3 linked regions of the Homo sapiens genome follow. The protein of the gene in region 3 interacts with the protein of the main gene of each other region in a pairwise test. Each region holds a gene or a part of one and is shown on either strand. Other genes may lie near its edges. The genes, in order: PLXNA2, RGS17 and DHX37.

What was found.
Region 1: the proteins of DHX37 (region 3) and PLXNA2 interact in a two-hybrid assay, tested with the Homo sapiens proteins (one large-scale study listed by IntAct).
Region 2: the proteins of DHX37 (region 3) and RGS17 interact in a two-hybrid assay, tested with the Homo sapiens proteins (one large-scale study listed by BioGRID).

The regions. Positions count from the first base shown.
Region 1 is NC_000001.11:208,213,234-208,216,884, forward strand, and holds part of PLXNA2 (plexin-A2 precursor), read right to left. Parts: coding exon 3,502-3,651; intron 3,486-3,501; exon of another isoform or gene 3,402-3,485; intron 1-3,401. UniProt on the Homo sapiens protein: Coreceptor for SEMA3A and SEMA6A. Necessary for signaling by SEMA6A and class 3 semaphorins and subsequent remodeling of the cytoskeleton. Plays a role in axon guidance, invasive growth and cell migration.
Region 2 is NC_000006.12:153,026,767-153,030,417, reverse strand, and holds part of RGS17 (regulator of G-protein signaling 17), read left to right. Parts: intron 1-3,651. UniProt on the Homo sapiens protein: Regulates G protein-coupled receptor signaling cascades, including signaling via muscarinic acetylcholine receptor CHRM2 and dopamine receptor DRD2.
Region 3 is NC_000012.12:124,964,981-124,968,631, forward strand, and holds part of DHX37 (probable ATP-dependent RNA helicase DHX37), read right to left. Parts: coding exon 3,554-3,651; intron 2,239-3,553; coding exon 2,143-2,238; intron 1,899-2,142; coding exon 1,813-1,898; intron 833-1,812; coding exon 688-832; intron 27-687; coding exon 1-26. UniProt on the Homo sapiens protein: ATP-binding RNA helicase that plays a role in maturation of the small ribosomal subunit in ribosome biogenesis. Required for the release of the U3 snoRNP from pre-ribosomal particles.

The sequences.
Region 1 (3,651 bases), on a different chromosome or scaffold from region 3:
GTTTTTCAATATATTGTTAGATATTCCCAAACACCTGATGCACCTTTACTTTTGCTCAAATGGTGAGAGCTTGGTGTATGGCTTTCCTTGGAAACAGAAGGGCTCAATAGAGAGAGACTGGACTAAGAAGTAATACAGCCGAACTAAATTCAAATCCCCGCTTTATCACTTATAGCTGTGGAGATCTGAGCAACTTACTTAGTCTTTGTGAGCCTTTGTTTTTTAATCTGTAAAATGGGGAAGATAACTCTTGCTTTATGGGGTCATTGTGAGGAGCAAGTGAGATAACACTTAAATTGCCAAGCTTAGCCTTTAGGACTAGCTGCTATTCAATGAGTGATAGCCCCCTTCTTCCTCTCTTTTCTGGGATCAGAGCTCAAATTTTTGATCTGAGATTTCCATGTTATTCCAGAGTCATGTTAAAATCAAGCTCTGGGACCACAGCTTCTTTCATTTATCCTTATTCCCCTCTAAGGCCACCAAAATATTTCTGGGTCCCTGGGTCTTAGTTCTTTGGAGTATCAGGGTCTTTAAGGGGCCATTCCTCTTGCAGCCCTTGCACCAGAAGGGTGTGGTGCTGAAGGGGTGGAGGCAAGGGGCTCTCCACTCTAAGGTCCTGGCCCCACTCACTGTCACCTCTCTCCCAGTGCCTTTGCTATCCTTTTGTAACTAGCCCAGGCTTGTCCCTCTGCTCTGGAGCAGAGAAGAGTGTCATCTTCCTCTTTCCTCTGGCTCAGAAGCAGGCAGGAATCAGCAGTTTCCTCCTGACAAGGCCCCCTCTGGGTTATGGGAACTAGGCTGGACTCTGCAAGCATTTAACCCTTACGGAGGGTTACATTTCCTCTCCACCTCTCCACATTGGTTACGGCCAGTGGCCATAAAATTTTGGCGTTAAAAAAAAAAAAACCAAAGACTATCTAGTCTAGCTTCCTCATTTTACAACAGTAAGATAACTAAGAAAATAGCTGGCTCTTTACTACTGTGATTAATATTAATAATCATAGCGGCCCATTTATTGAATGCTTATTATGTTCCAGGTATTGTGCTAAGCACTTTACATAAATTTTCCATTTGATCCTCATAATAACCATGAAAAGAAGACAATATTATCTCTATTTTAAAGACGAAAAATTTACAGCTCAGACCAGGTACATAACTTGCCCAAAGTCACACAAGGAGTAAGTGGTAGGACTGATTTTTAATCCCCATCTGGTTTACTTCAAAGCCTTAACCACGACTCTTCTACCACACCAAGCAAATGATGACAGGAATAGAAGCGTAGCCTTGGAATGATGTTTTCTTGCTTCAAGTACTGGTGCTTGGTCCCAACGGCAGGCACCTTCAATTTAGAGTACTCAGAAGGTAGCCGTATGGGCCCCTTGGTCTCATATATTTTTTTCTAGGTTGCAGATCCAGAGCCCTCAGCACTGTGTACAAGAAACCTACTTTTGCACTTCTCACACTCCCTGTTAACTCCCTGTGTAATAATAAACCTAACATTTCCAGGCATGGTGCTAATCTCTCCATGTATTATCTCATCTGATCATCCCATGAGCTAGGCATTATTATTTCCATCTCACAGATAAGAATGTAGAGATGCTAAGGTGCTTCTGAAGAAGGCAGGAAGAAACACAGATGGAATTTGAAGCCTGGCTTTTGTCTCAGAACCTCAAACTCTGAGCCACTACATTATGTTGCCAGCTGTCTCTAGCTCTCTCTCTCTTCCTCTCTCTCTCTCTCTTCCCCCTACTAGATTATAAGATCTGTGAGACTAGTGATCATGTCTTTTTTTTTTCTGAGACAGGGTCTCACTCTGTCACCCAGGCTGGAGTATAGTAGCACAATCTTGGCTCACTGCAACCTCCACCTCCCATGCTCAGGCCTCCAGAGTAGCTGGTACTACAGGTGTGCATCACCACACCCAGCTAATTTTTGGAATTTTTGTAGAGACGGAGTTTTGTCATGTTGCCCAGGCTGGTCTCGAACTCCTGAGCTCAAGCAATCTGCCTACCTTAGCCTGCCAAAGTGCTGGGAGTACAGGTGTGAGCCACCGCACCCAGCCGATCATGTCTTTTTATGTTTGCAACCCCAGTGCCTAGTACAGTGCCAGGCATTCAGAAGATCTTCAATACTACTTGTAAATGAATAGAGGGATGGGTAGATGGATGATGGTGGATGAATAAAGAGAGGGATGAATGGATAGATGGAGGGCTAGGTAGACAAATGGATGATGGATAGATAAAGATATGGAGACATAGATTAAGGGAGAAAAAAGAGGGATGAGTGGATAAAGAGATGGATGAAGGGATGGAGGAAGGGATGGAGGAAAGAATGAAGGGAAGGATCAGGGACAGATGAATGGAGGTTTAGGTAAATAGGTGAATAGATGGATGGATGGATGATGGATGGATGGATGGATGGAGAGATGCATGGAGGGAGAGAGCTAAGGAGGATGGAGGGATAGATGGATAGGAGAATAAAAGGAGGGAAGGAAAGGGGATGGATGAAAGGAGAGATGGGTGGATAAATGAATGGATGATTGGATGGTTGGATGAATGATGGAAGAAGAGTGGATCATGAATACTTTGATGGCAGCACCATGAGCCGCTGACAGGGCAGTGCTTGCCACTGATTTTCTTGTCTCTGCTTTCCTCAGGTCTGGATTCTGAGCTTTTCATCCTCTCCTCTTTTGCCTTTGCCCACACTCCTGATTCTTCTCCAGTTTTCCATCAGTTGGTCAAGCCAGACTCCCTTCCCTCTCCTCTGACTTAGATTTCTGATCTCCACTTGACCCCCTCACTGGGAACCACAGTGGCCTACAGCTCTGTGTGTACATGACCTGGTCCCCATTACTTCTGATGGACCCCATCACCTGCTGCTCTTTCTCTCACATACTCTGATCTGGCTGCAGTTGCCTCCTTACTGTTCCTCAGACACTCCAGGCATGCCCTGAATTCTTTGCACATTCTCCTCACCCTTTCTCTCTCTGGAATGCTTTCTCTGGACACTTGTGTGGCTCCCTTTCTTCCCATCCTCAGTTTTTGCTTAGACACCACTTTCTCAATGAGTCAGTCCTCTCAGCTACTGCCTCTCCCCCTTTCCTGTTTATTTTTCTCTATAGCCATTATCACCATTTGGCAAACTAACATGTATTATGTGTTCATTTGTCTCACCCAACTAGCGTGTAATCTCCATGAGGGCAGTGAGCTTTGTAGGGTTGTATGGTTCACAGCTGAAGCCTGCAGCATTTACAATAGCACCTGATGTGATGTAGGCACTCAATACATATATTTGAAATGACAACAAATCAACACACATATCTCAAGTATCTGGTGTACGTAAGACCCTGCGTTATTGGTTACCACCTGATAACCTGAGTCTGAAAACCTCTTTCATTTCAGGTCCATGGTGGTGTGGGAGCAGATGTGCCCCAGGGCATGGACAGGAAGGTTGGAACCTGTGTCATGGAGCAGGAGCAGAGCGAGGTGTGTGCCTCCTTACCGCCTTGGTGCACTGGACGTCCTTCCCCAGCAGCCAGTTGAGCTCCAGGTTGCCCTCGCCCTGGTAGCAGGACTGCAGGCGCTCCTTGATCTGCAAGTTGATGGCCCGGATAGGGAAGGCACACAGGGCAGAGTCATCGGGCGGGTGGTG
Region 2 (3,651 bases), on a different chromosome or scaffold from region 3:
ATCCCAGAGTTACCATGGCTACTGGTAAGTTTTATCTTCTTTGCAACCATTTTAACAGTTTTTCTTAAGAACCAATTGTTTTCCTTACAATAGAAGAGTGTCTTCCAAAATAGACCCTGCGCATATCCATGATGACAGATCAGTAGATAAACTGTATAATTGGCAGCAGGTAATGTTTTTTCTCACTCCACTGTCCACACTCCCCTGTAAACAAACAATCCACCCCCATAGAGAGGGGGCACATTTTCTTAAGTTCTCAAATGTCACAAGTATTTTTCCTCCCTTTTCAAAGTCACTATTTAGAAAATCTCTAATGGGATTTTAAATGCTTATTTTAGTATATTTGGCCAAGGATATTGGCACTTTTCTTCCATAAAGTATTTAAGGTTTGATCAAGACCCTCACAGTGAGCACTGTGTATGTGTTTAGTTCTCTTTGTGGCTTTTATTGCTTAAAAAGTAGAAATGTTAGTTTTAAATGTTACATACATAAAAGTCAGTGGGGGAGTGTCTCTTCTTGGAGAGATATGGGCTAAAAAGAAAAAACAAGACATGTAATCCCAGCATTTTGGGAGGCCAAAGTGGGTGGATCACAAGGTCAGGAGTTCAAGACCAGCCTGACCAACATGGTGAAACCCTGTCTCTACTAAAAATACAAAAATTAGCTGGGCATGGTGGCGGGTGCCTGTAATCCCAGCTACTCAGGAAGCTGAGGCAGGAGAATCACTTGAACCCGGGAGGCGGAGCTTGCAGTGAGCTGAGATCATGCCATTGCACTCCAGCCTGGGCAACAGAGCAACACTCCGTCTTAAAAAAAAAAAGAAAAAGAAAAAGAAAAAAAAAAGTGTCTCTATGGGACCCTCAAAACTGTTGATCTGGTATTTTCCTTTTAGGGCTTTCCTCAAACACATATAACATATATAAGTTGGTCTAGAGCAAATATTTCCAGTGAATTAATAAAAACAACAACAACAATGCACTACTTGGAGCAGGACCAGGTAGGACAGACATTAGTCAATATCAAGACAGACAAACTGTTAAGTATTAATCCCTTGTCTATTTTCTCCATTTCTCTTTAACTTAAAATGGTATTTTCAGCAGTTCTTGATAACTGAAACCTTGAAACCCATTTTTTAAGACCGGTAGTAAAGGACAGTTAATAAAAAGGACAATTTGTCTGTTGCCAAAGTTCAATTTCTACAGGGCAAGACTGTGGCCAATAGTAGATCAAGAGCTGCACAGTGAATAGTTAAACATTTACTGAATGTCTGTTGTAAGTAGTTTTAGTCCAAATGTGTGTCCATATTTTACCACCTGTAGAAAAGAAAGATGTAAACTCAACCTAATATTTCGTAATGATCGCTCTAATATGGTAGCATTTGGGATGTTTGTAAATATCACAGAAACAGATAGAAGAGCCAGAATTCATGTTCAGAAACTCGTGATTCATGCCTGTAGACTCCAGATTTGTCACTCTACGGCAAAGGCACAACGGAGAAAAAAATTTCTCAAAGATGTTTAATGAAATGAAGTATACCTGCGTCATGTGTACTGCCTTCTGTAGAACACTGTGTGGAAATGTAATAAAAATAAACTCAAGGAGTTTATTATTTAAGCAGGGGATGAAAGCTCTTTTGCTAGTTGTGTTATAGTGCCTTAATATGTGTTTGCACACACACATAGAAGCTCAATAAAGGTTGACAGAATGAGTATCAATTTCCTATTTTAAAAAGAGCTGAATAGAATTTACCAAAAAATTGTACATTTTATATATACAGGAAGTTTTACAGAATATTGTCAGCAGTGTATCCCCCCCCATCCACTTTTCCCATCATGACTGGAAATACATCAAATTCCAGAGAAGAACTTTCTTACTCATTCATGAATCTCCTCTAAAATACTTATCTGGCCTATTTGTATAGTGACATAGAGGACTGAGGTTTCCCAGGCTATCTCAAACCTCAGACACATTCACAGCACTCACACGCAAATACCTCCAAAATTATGCACTGTCTCTGAATTCCTCCCCAAAATTACACTACGCTAAAGGCTTTGCTGTCTCTAACCCTGGGACTGCTGCCTCCAGCAGGGGTCTAGTCAATGTGCAGCAGGTCCAAGGGACCATCCACTCTAGTTTCTGCTCCCCAGAATCCTTCTGGGCTACATTACCTTTCCCTCCATGGTTCGACACCAATAAACCTGCCCCTGTCCCTAGAAATGGGTAGAGGCAAACTCAATGTATTTCACTATGAAATCCTATGTTTTCTATGTCCTTTTCCTGACTACAGAATCCTTTTCAATTCCTATTGGGTTCTCCTTTTTCCAGTGAGTCTGCTCTCTCAGGTCAGTTTTCCTATCTAGCCTCACTTTCCATTGTAGATGGGCCCGCTTGTCAGAAATTAATATTTCCCTTTGCTCCATTCTCTCCGTCCTCACGCTTGCACTTGAGAATGAAAGAAGGAATTAAGGAGACATTGTCTTGGTTTCTCTTATCAGACTTTCCAGATTGAGAATAACTGCTTGTTGGGCACCTCTTCCTAAACACTTTCTTTCCATACCAACGATGTTTAGTGACCCTTCTTTGCATTCACATAGTAAGTGGTCTATGACCTCAGTGTCTATCAGCAGCCATGGTTCATAGCAGGCACTCAGAAATACAGGGTTGTTGAACAGGGTAGGCTTCCAATTCCAACTATAGCACCTATTTAGTGTTCGGTTTTGGGCCAGCCTCCCAGACGGGTCTGCACCTCACTTTGCTCATCTGTAAAATGGGGATAATAATATTAATGGTAAAAGAATGGTGCCCAGCACATAACAGGCACTAGAAAATCATCATTTCCATTGCTTCTTATTTTGAGTAAGTAAGTGAAAGAAGGAACAAATGAGAGATGTTATCTGAACTTCTTGTGCTCTCTGCCAGGCTCTTAAGCTCCTCGGCTTCTAGACAGAGGGATCAGTTGGCTAATTTGGGAGCTCAAATTTTCCCGAGCCACTGAGTTATTCTCCCTACCCTGCTTCTTAGTATCTCCCATGACCTCACCTGTTGTTTCTAGTCCACACCGAGAGTTTTCGGTGTTTTGCCCTAAAGCACTGCTCAGCTTTAGGGAGCAATTGTCATTGGACAATTCTTATTCTTATTCTTGTTCTGGGCTACTAAAACCTTCGGCATTATCCTCTGTCCTCTATGATGCTGTAGAATTCCCAAACCTATGCTACACAGACACACACCCCTCCCACCCAATGCTCACCTGTTCCAAATGCTCAGTTACTGGTCTGTCCCTTTCAAGACCTTGGACATTGATTTACTGGGGTGAAAGGGCAAAAACAAAGTCAAATATAAATCCGGTAGCTTGATTTTAGCAATTGAAGGAATGATATTATCGGTAACAATGTAAATTTAGCAAAATCTGTATTAGATTCTGACACATTGTATCTTATTAGCTCTCAATCGGGGAAAATTAATGGAAAACAGACTATGAATAGAATTAACCAAAAATCAAAATGACATTTTGTTTAAAGAGTAAGGTAATCATATGTGTGTGTGTGTATATACATATATATATAATATTAAGGCATTTAATCATATATCTCAGAAATATTCAGTAATTCAGATTATGTAAGGATGAAGTCAGAATATTTAACAATATCCACT
Region 3 (3,651 bases):
CGGGAGGGAGGCATCCGGCTGCTCACCTGGAGGGAAAGCAGAGGTCACTGGCACCCAGGCCGGGACAGATGCCCACAGGCAGGAGCTGGCCACAGCGGCCCTGCACCCCCAGGCTGCTCCACCAGAGCTCCTTTCTTTGCCCTGCTGCAGAGGCTCCCCTTGGGACCAGCCAGGCCAAGCCTGGGGGAACTGCTGAGAGGTTCCCAGGGGCTCTCTTGTCTCTGCTGCCCTGAACCGGATCTGAACCCCTGTGCTGCACAATCTCCTCCTCCAAACCCCTGGCATGGATCCCGGGAGCCTGACTCCACTCCTCGTGTCCTGGCAGCATTGTGGTGGGGTCAGGCTGAGCCCGTACTGGGGTACTCTCTGCTGCCCCACTCAGCCCCTGGCTGGGCACAGCAGGGCACTGGGTCTGCCTGCATTCAGGGGGCCCCTGCGAGCACACGGAGCTGGGCAACACCCCCAGGCTCTGAAGGCCTGCGTCCCTCAGCAAGGGGTTGGCAGCCCCCATTACATTCAACATGGCAAATGTTTGAGGCCTCCTCGTGCCAGGCAGTTTCAAGAACTCAGGAAGCATCGGGGACAAAGCTGCTAGAACCCCGGCCCCCGGGGGGCCCACAAGGGCTCTGGGCACATCCTCAGGGCAGAGATAATGAACATGAGCAGGAATCGGTGCTCGGGCCACACCTCCATCTTGCCCGCCATCCCCCAGGTCCAGATCGAGGTCGGAGTCCAGGGCCCCCTCTTCCTCATCCACTTCTGCCTCCCTGTCCTCATCGCCTTCGCCTGCCGGTAACACCGAGTAATGATCCAAGTTGATCTGGGGCAGCACCTACGGCGAACAAGACATAGACACCTGGGCTGCAGGGATCCTGGGTGTGAGGACGTGGCACGTGCAGGAAGACAGGTGCCCTCGCATGGAAGCCCCGGTCCACACCCATGGGCCATGCAACCCGGGGCAGGCCACATAATTCTCTCTTCCTGCCAGAATTTCCCCACCTAAACATTGGGGACTATCATAGACCTTGTCTCCCAGGCTGGTGGGAGGGTTGTGTGAACACACGTGAGGAACCTGGATCGCTGCCTGACACATCGGTAGTGCAACAGGCAAGTCAGAGACGGCTGAGTGCTTACGCTACCGTCACGGAGCACAAGACCCACGGTGCCTTCACGCAGAGGCTAGAGGAAAGCCCCTGCCAGCCCAGCCATCCCAGAGTAGCTGGGAGTACAGGTGCACACCACCATGCCTGGCTAATTTTGTATTTTTAGTAGAGACAGGGTTTCGCCATGTTGGTCAGGTTGGACTTGAACTCCTGACCTCAGGTGATCCACCTGCCTCAGTCTCCCAAAGTGCTGGGATTACAGGCGTAGCCACCACGCCTGGCCTTCTTTTCCATTTCTGAGACAGAGTCTCACTCTGTTGCCCAGGCTAGAGTGCAGTGGGACCATCACAGCTCATTGCAGCCTTGACCTCCTGGGCTCAGATGGTTCTCCCACCTCAGCCTCTGAGCAGCTGGGACCACAGGCATGCGCCACTGCACTGGATTAATCTAAAAAATTTTTTGTAGAGACATGGTCTCACCATGTTGCCCAAGCTGGTCTCAAACTCTAGGCCTCAAGCGATCCTCCCACCTTGGCCTCCCAAAGTGCTGGAATTACAGGCATGAGCCACTGTGCCTGACCAGGAACTGGATTTTTAACTTCATTTTATTCCAATTACACTTAAACCTAAGCAGCCACATGGGGCTGGTAGCTGCCATCCTGGACAACGCAGCCTTACTCTCCAGGAGTCCCTGCCAGCCCCCCACGTACCTCAGCCCGCGCCTTCTTGGCCCTGGCCCTTGACTTCTTAAACTTCCGCATTTCCTCCACCGAGTCTTTCTGATCGTCGTCCTTTTCTGGGAGAGGGGCAGGTTGGGGAGAAAGGCGTCTGTGGCCGGCGTGGTCGCCAGCACACTGCCCTTTGTTGTTCAAGGCATGGCCACTCAGTGGTGGCCATTTATTCGGGGGTGAGGTGGGGGATGGCAAAGGTGCTGATGCTTCCAGAGAGAAGCTCAGAGGCAGGAGCTGCACCCCAGCCAGGGAGCGCGAGGCCAAGCCCAGCTGCTCAGGGCAGAGTGCTGGTCGGGGCGTCCTCTTTACCTTGTGGCCGGGCTCTGGAGGGTGGGAAAGCCTTCCTGAGCCTGCGGCACAGCGCATGCACCTCAGCCTGCCCCGTCAGGAACACCAGGATGCCACCTGTGGAAAGAATGGGCCCCTCTGTTATCCATCAGTCACTCACAAACATTTGCTTAGCAAAAGCACCTGCCAAGCCATGCTCTGAGAGGCAAGGTTCCAGGGATAATGGGGGAGGACAGGAGTACACAGACATAGATGAGCAGGGGGCAGCACGCCCAGACTGAAGCAGCTGCCGCCAGGGAGTTCAACAAACACGGCGACTGCACAGCCCAGCAGCATCACTCCCAGGAACAGACCCAAAAGCCCTGAGAAGCGTGCTCACACGGAACCCTGCACACCACACTCACGACAGTGACAGCGCCGCGGCTGCCCTGAGACCTGAGGCTGCAGGAAGGCTCACTGCCCAAGCTCCAGCCTCACCTCCTGCCAGCCCCAGTCTCCCAGAGAATGGATGGGAGCCCCGAAAGGCCATAAGCAGAGCAAGGACAGAGCATCACGAAGCAGCAACCTCGGCTTCCTTGAAGGACGAGGTCAAGCTTGTTGGGAAGCACCCCCATGGCTCCTTGCCTCCCTAACATGAAGAAAGCCAGCCTTGGGCCCAAATTCGGCACACAAGAGTCTCTGGCTAGGCTGGGTGCAGTGGCTCACACTTGTAATTCCAGCACTTTGGGAGGCTGAGGCAGGCAGCTCACCTGAGGTCAGGAGTTCGAGACCAGCCCGGCCAACATGATGAAACCCCATCTCTACTAAAATACAAAAAATTAGCCAGGCGTGGCAGTGTGCGACCAGTGTGGGACCTGTAATCCCAGCTACTTGGGAGGCTGAGGCAGGAGAATCACTTGAACCCGGGAGGTGGAGGTTGCAGTGAGCCAAGATCTGCCACTGCACTCCAGCCTGGGCAACAAGAGTAAAACTCCGTCTCAAAAAAAAAAAGTCTGGCTGGAAGCGATCACAATCTATTCACACAGAAAGGTCACATCCATTTCAGTAACATGAGGTGGGTAACGGAGCAGGTATGATGGGGACAAGGCAGAACTGTGAAGGGTATCCGTGACTCTTGGGGGGATGTGCCCGTTCCCCTACAGTGTCTATGGTCACCTGCCAGCACTGGCCTGGGCCCTGTGGGTTTTTCTGCTTATCAGATGGGGACAGATGGCAAGCTCCACCATCTGGTAGCTGCTGAAGCCTCATAGTATTTGGAGTGGAATAAGGCCAGACAGGTGTCATGAACACTCTGGAATAAGTGAGGAAGCCGAGGCCTGGCAGGGTCAAGGGACTTTTCTGAGCCACTCGGAGATGGGCCCTCCCACACTCGTGCTTTCAGCGAGGGTTTAGGAAGGGAGGCTTCTTTCCCCTGACCTGGCCAGGGCCTCACCTGCGGGCAGCATCCGGTGGATCTTGCAGACCTTCCGGAAGCACTCGCCACTGTAGTCTTCCAGCGGTGTCCGCTTGTTGAAATGCACAGTCACTGGG